3 separate regions of the Homo sapiens genome follow, and regions 1 and 3 are each reported to be linked to region 2. Evidence: microRNA targets listed by miRTarBase, many of them from high-throughput screens and not tested one by one. Region 2 holds a microRNA gene; each other region holds the end of a gene's coding sequence.
What was found. The annotated mature microRNA hsa-miR-4708-3p reads AGCAAGGCGGCAUCUCUCUGAU and lies in region 2 at 1,350-1,371, opposite strand. An mRNA with a match to its seed (bases 2 to 7 or 8) in the 3' UTR can be bound and repressed. Matches are read on the target gene's strand: a 7mer-m8 pairs with bases 2 to 8, a 7mer-A1 pairs with bases 2 to 7 and ends in A, and an 8mer does both.

Region 1 (4,060 bases), not on the chromosome of region 2:
GCGGGAGCACCGGGCCGCCCAGCTGGGCAAGAAGGGCCGGGGCAAGGAGGCTGAAGAGCAGCGGCAGAAGGAGGCCTACCTGGAGTTTGAGGTGAGCCTCCCTGTCTGCCCCTCTGTCCACACACGCAGGCCCATACTAGGGTGAAGGGCATGAACTCTAACAGTGGAACCGGCCGGAGGTCCTTGGGCAGGTTGCTTAACCTAAGCCTCAGTTTCCTCCTCTGTGCAACAAGGATAACATTTGACATCCACTGGGGTCTCGAGGTGAGGCATGTCTCAAGCGTGCCATTTCCCCAGCTCTAGTAAAGGCTCAAGACACATTAGGTTATAGATGATGGTCCCAGGAGAGCCCAGAGGGGGCACCAGCCCGCATGGGACCATCTCACAGTCCTGGGTGGGCACCTGCCATCTTCTGCCCTGCTGGCGGCCCTCCCTGGTCCAGATGGTGGGGTGGGCAGAAGGCAGAGAAGAGGCTCTCACAGCCCCTGCCCCTCTGCCTCAGAAATCCCGCTACAGCACCTATGCAGCGCTGCTTCGGGTCAAGCTGAAGGCAGGCAGTGAGGAGCTGGATGCAGTGGAGGCAGCACTGGCCCAGGCCGGGAGCACAGAGGATGGACTCCCTCCTTCTCACTCCAGTCCCTCCCTGCAGCCCAAACCCTCCAGCCAGCCCCGGGCTCAGCGTCACAGCTCAGAGCCTCGGCCAGGGGCAGGCAGTGGGCGGCGGAAGCCCTGAGATGAGGTTTAGGGTGGGGAGTGCCTGCTGGGCACCTGAAGGATGACATGGCCCTGCCTGAGCCCGGGCCGGCCTCGGGCCACCCACGAGGGCCTCCCGGCCTAGGGCCCGACCGCGCCGGACGCGGTGTCCGGGGCAGGGCAGGGCTGGGGCCTGGGCCTCAGGAGCCTAGGCTAGGGGCACCTCCGAGAGCCCCTTTTTGTGATAATGTTTTGCACTTTTTCGTACAGGGTGGGCGGGGGCGGGAGGGGCTAGCGCCCCTGAACTTTTGATGCTTTTTTTTTGTGTGGGAGAGGCCTGATGCCGTTTCTGCTTTCTGCTGAGACCACCCCCACCCTGACACCATCAGTCCCCCTCTGTCCTGGGGCCTGGCTTGGACAGAGACCAGGATTTGGGGCTGAGCTGGTTTCCCCTCCTTCCTCCCCAAGGGCTTACTCTTTCTCTTGCTGGAGGTGGAGGAAGGGCGTCCATGCCAAGGCCCCATACCTGGGCCGGGGGCAGCACGGCCTGGCTTTCCCCCGCTTCAGTGGGCCTTGCCCTTTGTACAGCCTCCACCCCCATTAAAACTGCTCTGGACTTGCTGGCTGGGCCTCCTCCTTCTCTTCTCACCATGCCTGGCATGTGGGCAGGGTGGGTAGCTGGTTCCAGGGACAAGAGTCACATCAGGGGCTGCCATAAGTTGGGAAGGAGGGGTCCTCCCCTTCCCATGAGAATCCTTTATTTGTCCCAACTGAGGGGTGGGTGTGGGGTGTTAAATAAGATTTGAAATAGGTGGGGACGCTGTACAGGGGGTCCGGGAAGGGGGCTGGGGGCAGGCAGCAGGTCAGTGCACCTGAGGCTGGGGGTGCCCGTGGCAGAGCCCTCCTGGTGGCTCAGGGGGTGGGCCCAGCTTCTCTGCCTCCTGCTCCACTGACTGGCTCCCGTACGCACTGTCTTCCTTCACCTCTGCTGGGGGTAAATGGGGACAGGAATGGGATAGTCAAAGCCTCAGGCCTCCGGCCCTCCAGGTCCAGATCCACCTTCCAGGGAGGCCCCTTTACCTGTGCTGGGCAGCTTGTCTCGGGTTTCTGGACCCCTCAGCAGCCTCACTCCCTCCTCTAGGCCCATGTCAGACAGGGCCTCCAGTAGACCTGCCAGGTCCCCGCCAGCCAGCTGAGAAGACAGAGGAATGAGGTCTGAGTCATGGTTAGGGCATGTGCTCGGGAGCCCTGGGGCCAAGGAGGCACCTGGACTCAGATCGGGAAAGGAGGCTGGGGAGGGGGCAGGGCACAGGCCAACCCACCTCGTAGCTGCGCAGGAGGCTGCCACTGGGTGAGGTTGTCTGTCGGTACGTGTCTACCAGGCTGCGCAGCCCCAGACGCTCTGCCAGCTCTGCCCAGCTGCCCTGGGCTTCTGGCCCGTCTAGCAGCTGCTCCAGGTTCTGCAGAGCTGTATCACCAAGTGACAGTCCCGGCCCTTAGGGGGACACACATACAGACATGTCATTTACCTCCAGAGTTGGGTGGGGACATGGACACCTGAACACTGCCTTTCTCCCAAGGTAAGCGACAGACAGGACCATGAGGGGTGATGGACGGGGCTGAGGGTAGAGAAAGGGAGGCCTCCTTCAGAGGTCCTGAAGGAGAAGAGACCTCTGTGAGGAGTCAGAGGAGTCGGGCTGGGGATGCCTGATGCTTCTCACCTGCTGGGCTGGGCGGGGTCAGGGGTGGCTCCATGGTGTTCTGAGCAGCATTTAGCAGCAAGGTCTTCACCTGGGGAGACAGCCGCAGTTCTGACTACCTCCCACCTCGTCCTTAAGCCTGTGTCTTTAAGTCCAGATACTCTGGACCCCGTCACTCAGAGCACTTCTAGTCCCGGGCTGGCCTCACCTTGGTGCTGCAAGTGAGGTCAAGAGGCGTGTGGCCCCGGAAGCTGCTTCGGGTGTCCTTCTCAGGCCCTTCAGAGTCCGAGTCGCTATCAGAGGTAGGGGGTGAAGGCAGTGGGCACAGGGGCTCCTCGTTTTCAGCATGGATGTCAGCACCTGGGAGAGGGAGGCCGTCATGGGGCGGTATGGTGGGGGCCTACATTAAGGACTGCAAAGTCGGGGGACTGGGAGGCACCTCTCTCCCTTCCCCCCACCCTGTTCAAGTGCCCCTGAGGGTGAGACTGACCAGCCTTCAGAAGGAGGCGGGTGAGGGTCGGGTACCCCAGTCCAGCTGCCAGGTGCAGGGGTGTGTTTCCCGCAAAGGTGCGAGCGTTCACGTTGGCCCGGAGCTGGGGGTGCGAGCAGCGAGAGTTGACACCACAGCATGGTCCCCTTGGCCAGCCCCCCCCTTCACCATCTTTGGCCCCTCCACCACCCTTGGCCCCACTCCTTCCACAATCCTCAGTCCCACCTTGGTGACCAGATGGGTGACCAACCCCAGCTCCTCCATCTCTGTGGCTAGATGCAAGGCTGTTCGTCCCCCCTGCCGCTCTGTGGCCTCCACTTCAGCCCCACTGTCCACCAGCAGATCCAGGCACTCAGGGCTTCGGGCTCGGACTGCCAGGTGTACTGGATACAGTCCTAAGGATGCAGGATGCTCAACCTGCAGCTGTGACCCTTAAGGCAGCCCCTGGACCAGCCCTGACCATTCAATCTCGACACCTCATAGTCCATTCTGGGCACTGGCCAGATACCCTCCCTGGTCCCCGCCTGCCCCCTTAGTCAGGTGAGATGGGGAGCTCACCCTCAAAGTCAGGCATATGCAACAGCTGGGGCACAGCAGGAGCTCCACTCTGAAGCAGTGCACGCAGCAGCTCAGGAGCACCAGCGCCTGCCCGCAGCGCCAGATGCATGGCTGAGTCTCCATGCCGATCCAGCAGAGCTGGGTCTGCACCTACCCGCAGCAGAAAGCTCACCACACTCGTCTGCCCCGTGATCACCGCCAGGTGCAGGGGCGTCTGGGGATGAAAGCAGGGTGAGCCAGGCCCGAGACCCACTTGCCTTCCAACCCCTCCCACCTCCCCAGTAGGCGCCCCCGCACCTGGTGCAGGTGGTTGGTGAGGTTGACAACGCCGAGGTCCTGGGCGTGGTGGATGACATAGACTATCTGCTCAATGACACTGGTCTGCCCGTGGATGATGGCTAGGTGCAGTGGTCTGGGGGTTGGGGAGCGAGAGTCTGGCCCAGCCACTCAGAGCATCCTTCGCTTTCAAGGCCCCACCGCCCTCATAGTCTCCCTCGCTGGGGCCCATGGAACCCAGCACGTGGCCCAGGGCATCGCTGTGCCTGCACTTAACGTTTCGCAGCACCTTTTGAGGTAGGTAAGTGCTATGACTGTACCCCTTGCACGGTCGACCAAACTG
Region 2 (4,066 bases):
ATAATCCCAGCTCTTTGGGAGGCTGAGTCAGGAGGACTGCTTGAGGCCAGGAGTTTGAGACCAGCTAGGCAACATGGTAAGACCCCCTCTCTATTATATATTAAAAATAATTTTTAAAAAATGCCTAAGTCACACCCCAGACCAATTAATATCAGAATCTGTGGGAACAGGGCTCAGCTATCAGTCTATTTTAATCTCCAGATGATTCCAGTGTGTAGCCACTGGCCTCATCTTAGCTCGGCTGAGCTGGTGAGACCCAGTAATCTGTATTCTAACAAGCCTTCTGCAAATCTCAGGACCTTTGGTGTGAACCATCCCATCATCCTCCCAATGTCCAGGCCTCTGATTTCACTTCTCTGCCCAGTGGGTGTGACTTGAAAGCAAGAGAGGAGGTGCAACAACCCTTAGTTTCTGTAAGAAGGTACAAGGAGACCAGTTCTGTATATCAAATCCTGGTTTATTCTAGCCAGACCTGTCTTAGGGACAATGATGGTCTTTCAGCCTAAATGCTTGCTTCTCAGGAAGCAGGTGAGCCAATGAAGGGCCCCACTCTCTCCAAGTGGAGACTATAGCATTTGCCTAAAATACCCCTTCTCTCCAGTCCTAACTGTCCTGGAAGCTTCTCAGAGGCCAAATATGTAAACAAGTTCCAAACCAACACATCTGCTTTTCATTTCCTGCGGAATGCTAAAACGAGTCTTTTAAGGTTGCTTAAAATATGTTCTCTCCTCCCGCCCCACCCCCCAGGGCATTTGCTGTGCGTCCTCAGACCACCTCAGCTCCTCCTTCCCTACACCTGGGACTCTTCTGCGCAGACTTGGCTTCAAACAAGGCTCACGGTTCTTCCTGGCATTTGCTTTTTTGGCTTAGCGAGTGCACATTCAATATCTTTTTCTTCTTTTTCTTGAAAGCACTGTCTTCAGTCTCCTCACTTGTCCCTTTCTCCTCTGGCAAGCGTAATGCTATCAACATTTGAAAGTGGCCTGATTCCCTGGTGTCTGGTAAATGGCCTTGCTGGTGAACTTCTTTAGGAGAACTGCAAAGAAACTAGAGCAGGGGCTAAAGAGAGCTGCTCTCTTGGGGCTCAGATGCCCCTCCTGGGGCCCCACCTCACACTAGGTGGGTTTCCTTCCTAAATTTGAGCAACGACTCTGTGTGACCTTAGCCACCCTTAACTTTGCTCTGCTTCTGTTTAGCATCTGTTAAGGAGTGACCTTTGCCACCAATTAATGAGGGTGAGGCCCCATTCAGTTGCAAAGAACGTGGAATTGTAAACAAACTTGCAAGTGGAAAGACTAGTTCCAGGGGAAATGTAGGTAAGAAAGGTGCTCCCGTATTCTCCTTTTAGTATCAGAGAGATGCCGCCTTGCTCCTCCTGTTCAAGGAGCAAGGCGGCATCTCTCTCCTAAATATGCTGTTGTGTCTCATACCTCAGCTTCTCAGGGCCCTGCCAAGAGCGGGTAGGTAACATAACAACAGCTGTTACTGCCCCAATGTATCCTCCCTCCAAATGTCAACAACATACACTTTGGAGTGGCCTCTTTATGTTAAGGCCTTGAGCTTTAAGACTCAGCTCTGGCCTTTAAGAATCGTATGTTCCCGTTGAAGAGACAGGATGTGTGTAAAGATAGCAGCTAGAGACCATGCCCAACAGATAACAAACATTAAGGGAATACATAAGTATTGAACAAATATATATGGAGCACTAATTATGTTTTGTTGTAAGCTCTGAGGCTAAAGTGTTATAGGACTTTCTCCTTAGTTCAACTAAAAGCCGGATTCTTGTCACACAGCCATGAGAGATTAGGCTTGCAGACACTTTGAAGGGTGAGAAGAATGGAACTTATTGGGCAAAAAGGAAAATAAATGGAAACAGGGACTCTCAGCAAAGTGAGAGTCCTGCTTGCTGGTTTTTCCTGCCTCACTGATTGAATCCCATGTACTACCCTGGATCAGGAGAGGCCAGGCTCCTTCCTGCTGCAAAGGGTGTGAACTTCTGCAGCTCCACCCTGTTCTCCCAGTGCGCAGGCCAGTCGGAGTTTCTCAGGGGACCCCTTTACACTTGGCTGTCTCAAAAAACAGGGAGCAAAACAGATAAAACCCCTGGCTTTATGGATCTTATGTTCCTTATATATATATATGTATAAGGAACACACGTATATATGTGTATATATGTATATATATATTTTTAGGTTCTGGAATAAATGTGCACAACATGCAGCTTTGTTACATAGGTATATACATGCCATGGTGGTTTGCTGCACCCATCAACCCGTCATCTACATTAGGTATTTCTCCTAATGCTATCCCTCCCCTATTCCCCCACCCCCTAGATCTTATGTTCTAATGAGACAAGACATACTTTGAGAGGCCAAGATGAGTGTCAGCAAATAAATATGTATAATACACCAGCTTCTGGGAAGTACTTTGAAGGAAAATGAAGCAGATTAAGGAGGGTAGAGTGACATGGTTAAGAGAATGTGGTTTTTTAGATGGGAGATCAGAGAAGACCTCTCTGGTAAGGAGACATTTGAGTCAAAATCTGAAGAAGGAGGGAGTGAGTCATCTGAGTCTGTGAAGAATTTTCTAAGCAAGGCGAGCAGCAAGCACGAAGGCTCTCAGGAAGGAGTGTGCTTGGTGAGTTCTAAGAACAAGCAGGCCAGTGTAGCTGGAAAGTAGTGAGCAGGAGACTGTGGGCAGGAGAGGACATGAGAGAGGTGACAGAGTGGATCACTGAGGACCCTGCAAGTGGTGGTAAGGACTTTAGATTTTGTTTTGAAGCCATTGGAGGGCTTTGAGTAGAGCAGTGACATGATTGGACTCACACCTTGGAAGGATCACTCTGAGCATGGACTCCAAGAGTGCACAAGGAGAAGTGTGAGGCCAGTGAGAAGGGTGCTGCAATAATCCGGGATGAGATGAAGATGATGGTGGCTTGGACCAGAGAGAAGAGACTAAGGGTGGTGAGATGAGATTAGATTCTGATATATAATGAAGGTAGAGTAGACAAGATAGATGAGATATAGGGTTATGATTTATGACATAAAGAGAGAAATCAGGAATGATTCCAGTGTTTTTGGCCGATACTCAAGGTTTTAAATTTATAGCAGGGATGGGCTGCTTCTGGTTAAGATAATAAGGGAAAGATTAATGAAAGACCCAAGATTTGAGCTGCACTTTGAAAAACTAGTAGGATTTTGTGACTTATAAAAAGTCTCAAGGGCTTATTTTGAGACCATTTTATCTCCTGGAGTGCAGCCTCCTACCCTAGTTCCACTTCTTTCAGTTATATCAACCAGGAGCTCTGGGATGCGGGACTCAGCCAGCCCAAGGAAGGTGAATCTGGATTCTTTAGGCCAATCATGAAAATTTTCTACTCTTGCCAGTAACTGGTTTAGAAATGGGCTGGTTTAAGAATGGGAATGTACTGGCCTGGGCATGGTGGCTCATACCTGTAATTCCCATACTTTGAGAAGCCAAGATGAGAGGATTGCTTGAGTCCAGGAGTTTGAGACCAGCCTGGACAATATAGTGAGCCCTCCTCTCTACAAAAATAAAAAATAAAATTAGCAGGGCACGGTGGTGCGTACCTTTAGTCCCAACTACTCAGGAGGCTGAGGTGGGAGAATTGCTTGAGCTCAGGTGTTTGACACTGCAGTGAGCCATGATTGAGCCACTGCACTCTAGCCTGGACCACAGAGTGAGACCCTGTCTCAAAATAAATAAAATAAAATAAAATAAAATAAATAAGGCATATGCTATAGTTCTGGACAATGGAACATAAAAGGAAACTGCAGAAGGGACGTCTGGGAAAATCTCTAAGTCTTCAAAAGGAAGCAAGGTACTCTGGCCTTGAGATGTTGTTAAGGACATAGAGCTTGAACTGCTATTGCCATCTTGCAAACATAAAGAGGAAGGTAAAGGCAACAGCTGCAGAGTGGCAGAGAGAAAAGGTGGACAAGCATGGTTCCTTGAGAACATTGCTGAGCTATGGAATTACCCAACCCTGGAACTGCACAACTTCTGAATTTTTTTTTTTTTTTTTTGAGACAGAGTCTTGCTCTGT
Region 3 (4,060 bases), not on the chromosome of region 2:
CTTTTTCCTTTGCTTCTTGAGACCGGGGTGTGTGTGGCTCAGCTTCCACGGCGTGTTTGGTTCGGTCCATGTGTGTGCGTGTGTATACTTGAAGAGAACTGTCGTGTCTGATTTGCACTATTGGAGGAGGACTAAAGTTGCCTGACAACTTTATGTGTTATGCCAGAACTCTGAGGGCAAACTGCTGAAAAACAAAGGGTTTAAGGATGACATTTCTGACCATTTGTGTGTTTGTTGTTGTTACTGTTTTTGTTTTTTTTAATGTAGACAATACAGCTTTGGAAGGGGAAGTCTCATACAGGTTATAGGTCTTTCTCTCTCTAGATTTCAGGTGCTTGCAACTGGACTGCAGACTCTACCAATCACGGGCATTTTATCTTCTCTGAACACTGCAGTTTGTTAGACTAGAGCTGAGGTTGGAGGATTCCATAGTGCTTTAAACGTGATGCATGTTTTAATGGAGAAAAAATAGCTGGTTTCTATTAATTATATAGACAGTAAACAAAAACCTTAATACTTACTATCTTCTTTTCAGAATTAGTTTATTTTTGTCAGTTACAGTCCTAGATATACTTACTGCTGGTACAGTTGTACTCTAAGATTGGTATTTGATATTCACTTTACTCACAAGTAGTGCGGGAGGCCAGCTCCTGGCAGGCCCTCGCGATGAGCAGTGGGTCAGCTGCGGTGTGGGATGCTGGAGTTTGGCTGCAGGCTGACATCATTTATTTTTGCATCCCTGTCTGCTTTGTTACAAGCTCCCAGGGGAGGTGGGGTTTGTGTCTTCCAACTTCCCTACATGCAGAAACTGCTCCCTTTGAACTCTCTTGGCTGAACAGCAGATTACTGACAGACAATCTGTGATATGGTGTTTTATACGCTTCCTCGTACGCTGGGGCCAAGGCAGTATACATTCCTCTGACTTTATACTGTTATTACTGCATTTATTATTTGCTATATTAATAGCTACTAACTAGAAATTAGATGAAGCAAGCATGACAGACACAGCTGTGGAGGTCACAGCTGCTCCTTTTTGGTCAATGAGCGTTTCTATCCCCTCCCCCTGGGGTGTGCTGTGTCCCACCTGGCCCACCAGAGGCTCACGACGATGGCACCTGACCAGGTGACGTGGGCGTGGTCACCTCACCTGCAAGGCTTTGTGGACTCTGCACACCGTATGACCCCCGGTTTTACAGTTTTTAGCTGTTGAATTTTGGAAATTGGCACTGGGTGAAAAGGTCGGAGGACTGGCTCTTGTAGTCACAGAGTGGCTGCAGGCCTTTGAAAAGTGGAGGAAAGAAAAGCCCTTCTCCTTGCCCCGCACACATTTCACTCCCACTGTACTGGGCTTCCAAGCTTTGGCATTCAGGCCCCTATATTTTCTGTAGGAAAAATCGTTGAGAACACTTTTCTATATGGGTGATTTTGAGACCATCGTTACGCTGTGCGTAAAGAATGTACAGAGAAATTTGTAGGTATTTTTTGAAGAACATTAATTTGTTAATGATATGTAGCTATTTAATTTTTCCCTTTCCTATTGTAATCATTCATTTTTTTTGTTGTTCGGAAAAAAAAAGTTGATCTTTTTTTTTGTCGTAGATTTGTCTGTAAAAGTGCAGGAACAGTTATTCTATGAGAACACTGCATCTGCATTCATAGCCACGAGTTTGTTATTGCTACAGGCTACTGAGCGTCGTAACAGGAAAACCACCCACAGCTGACCGGCTCGGTGGAGGACACTCCTGGGACAGGTCTCTTTGTCAGTGAACAAGGGCGTCACTCTGGGAGGGGTCGGCGGTGCTGGCGGCCGGGTCCCTGGTGCACTGACCTATCTGGGATAGGCAGTACCCTGGAGGGGGGCCTGGGGCAGAGGAGGCAGCAGAAAACCAAACATTTCACTGAGAAAGCCCCCTCCCTGCTCTAAGAAGGGGCTCCGTGAAGTTCTTCCCAGAGCCGCGCTGCCTGCAGTGCGCTCTGACCTTCTCTTCATGTGTGTAAATCTGTAATATACCATTCTCTGTGGCCTGTTTTTCCTGGAAGAAGAAAAAAAAAGGTTTGGCAGGCCATCTTTTTTTGTACTTAAAAGTAGCCTTAAGAACAATAATAAAGTGCTCTTAAACCACATAGTGTACGTGTGCAGTTTCAGCGCCAGGCTGGGTGGGCGGACTCGGGCCCTGCACCTGTGCCGGCTGTGTCCCCATGAAGCTCCCATGAGCTGAACGACAGCCACTGGAACTTGGACTGGCTACTTTGGGAGAAGCGAAGCCTCATTTGAAATCTACCCTACTAAATCCTACTGTTGTAAGGGTCAGCTCGACTCAATTTTCACTTTGATTCTGGGCCTAAGACAAAAGCTGAAAGAATAAAATAGCAGGAAAGACGATGCCCTCTACACGGGGGCAGGGTGGTCACAGGTACCTAGGCCATGGCCTCTCCTGGGTTGGGGCCTCACAGCTGCACACACCCAGAATAAAGAGGAAAACCAGCTCTTGCCTGAGTTACCCATGGTAGAGCCGTCTGACCCCTCCCTCGGCTGGGGCAGGAAGGCAGCCCAGGCTCGGCCTTTCTGGGCCTGGCCTGCTCATAAGGGCAGGGAGGAGCCCCATCCAGGCAGCTGCCAGGATCTGCCCCTGGGCTCTTCCCCCCAGCTCAAGGCAGCAGCAGAAACTCCTCTCCCTCAAGCAGGCAGGCAGGCACAGATGCTATGCCCACAGTGGAGGACAGGCTGGGAGGCAGAAAGCCATGTCTGAGCAGCTCACTCAGTCCTTGGTGGAAATCTGGCGTCACTGGGTCATGTGGGCCCTTTAGTCTCGTACCCAGCTCGGCTCTCCTCCTCCTCCCGCTCCACCAGGGCCAGGGTGCAGTGCGCTCACGGGGTCCCACCCTCACCCATGCCCAGGGCCCCCACAGGAGGAGCCTGCGGTGCGGTGGGCAGCACATTCCGGGGATGAGGGTGCCACCTCCCGCAGTGGCTCTGGGCAGGAGCTGGTTGCTCATTTCCCCATTTGGTCTGTGTTGGGTCACCCCCTCAGGGCCAAGGGGAAAGGATCCTGGGGGATGGCTATCAGTCACTGTGACAAGAAATAAAAACTGCATGGAGGACCAAGTCCCAGGTCAATAGCAAGGCCAAGGCCAAGGTTATTATTTAGCTCTGAACTGGTGGTATCTTGAATCCCGAGCAACGCCGAACACTGGCCACTCCTGGGCAGCAGAGGGGGGAATCCCAGACCTCGGGGTATGGAGGAGGGGCCCAGAATCACCAGGCCTGGGGTCAGCAGTCCTGCTCTGGCGATGGAGAGCTCCTCAGCAGGCGGCCGGGGAGAAGTCAGCCCCACAGCGGGGCCATCTCAGATGGTCTCATCATCGCTCATGTCCCAGATCTGCATGGAGAAGGGGAGAGGCTCAGCCGAGATGTCCCACTGCCCGGTGGGGGGCACACAGATGCTTCAAAACCGCAGCAGTCATGGCAGCTCCCACCTGCAGAACCACTCCCTTGTTTCTGAGGGACTGTCACCCCATTTCTGTACAAGGAAACCAAATCTCAGACTTGCCAAGGCGTCACTAGTGTGTGAACCACCTGGTGGAACCAACAGGGGAGGGCTGGGATTTGCACTGGGGAATGTGCCTCTGCTCACCTCCTGCATGTCCACCTCGGGGGACCGTCCCTGACCCAGCCAGCCTCTGCTCATCCTGGCTTCTGCAGCACTCACCCCCACCCCAAGCCAGCTTGTTCTCCTTGTGGTCCACCTGCCCTCTGGAAGGCAAGCTCCCTGAGGGCAGGAATTCTGGCATGGGCACGTGCTGCCTTGGGAGGCTGCACCCTGGGCACCTGCTCCATGTTCCCTCTAACTGTAGTCCAGCTGCCCACACTCCCAACTCACACTAGAGAGCTGGCTCAAGAGCAAGCCCTCCCCACCAGCCAGGGTGGAGGTGGCCTGGAGCAAAGACAGTGGAGACAGCCAGATCCTGCCACAGTCCCTCAATGCGTGTCCTCCGAGTCTGAGCCTCGCAGTGAACCTGGGGAGCAGGAGGCCCCAACGTGGCTGTGAGGAGAACTGAG

Region 1: miRTarBase lists PSD as a target of hsa-miR-4708-3p. Seed matches in the 3' UTR shown: 7mer-m8 at 1,264-1,270.
Region 3: miRTarBase lists ATG7 as a target of hsa-miR-4708-3p. Seed matches in the 3' UTR shown: 7mer-m8 at 3,121-3,127 and 8mer at 1,149-1,156.

Annotation. Positions count from the first base shown.
Region 1 is chr10:102,399,873-102,403,932 of GRCh38, reverse strand. It overlaps PSD (pleckstrin and Sec7 domain containing), which reads left to right. Exons shown (of 17, transcript NM_002779.5): 16 at 1-91; 17 at 503-1,314. The coding sequence ends at 733. It overlaps NFKB2 (nuclear factor kappa B subunit 2), which reads right to left. Exons shown (of 23, transcript NM_001322934.2): 15 at 3,739-3,853; 16 at 3,442-3,655; 17 at 3,109-3,278; 18 at 2,884-2,986; 19 at 2,602-2,753; 20 at 2,415-2,484; 21 at 2,016-2,188; 22 at 1,774-1,885; 23 at 1,409-1,681. The coding sequence ends at 1,557. Among named protein-coding and RNA genes, the nearest start is that of NFKB2, 6.2 kb to the right of the region's middle. RefSeq lists a silencer at 1-121 and an enhancer at 2,362-3,058.
Region 2 is chr14:65,333,774-65,337,839 of GRCh38, forward strand. MIR4708 (microRNA 4708) reads right to left here and starts at 1,410; the gene lies at 1,344-1,410. RefSeq lists enhancers at 2,349-2,448, 2,509-2,658.
Region 3 is chr3:11,554,131-11,558,190 of GRCh38, reverse strand. It overlaps ATG7 (autophagy related 7), which reads right to left. Exons shown (of 21, transcript NM_001349232.2): 21 at 526-3,380. The coding sequence ends at 3,348. VGLL4 (vestigial like family member 4) reads left to right here. Exons shown (of 5, transcript NM_001128219.3): 5 at 1-2,122. Among named protein-coding and RNA genes, the nearest start is that of VGLL4, 88 kb to the left of the region's middle.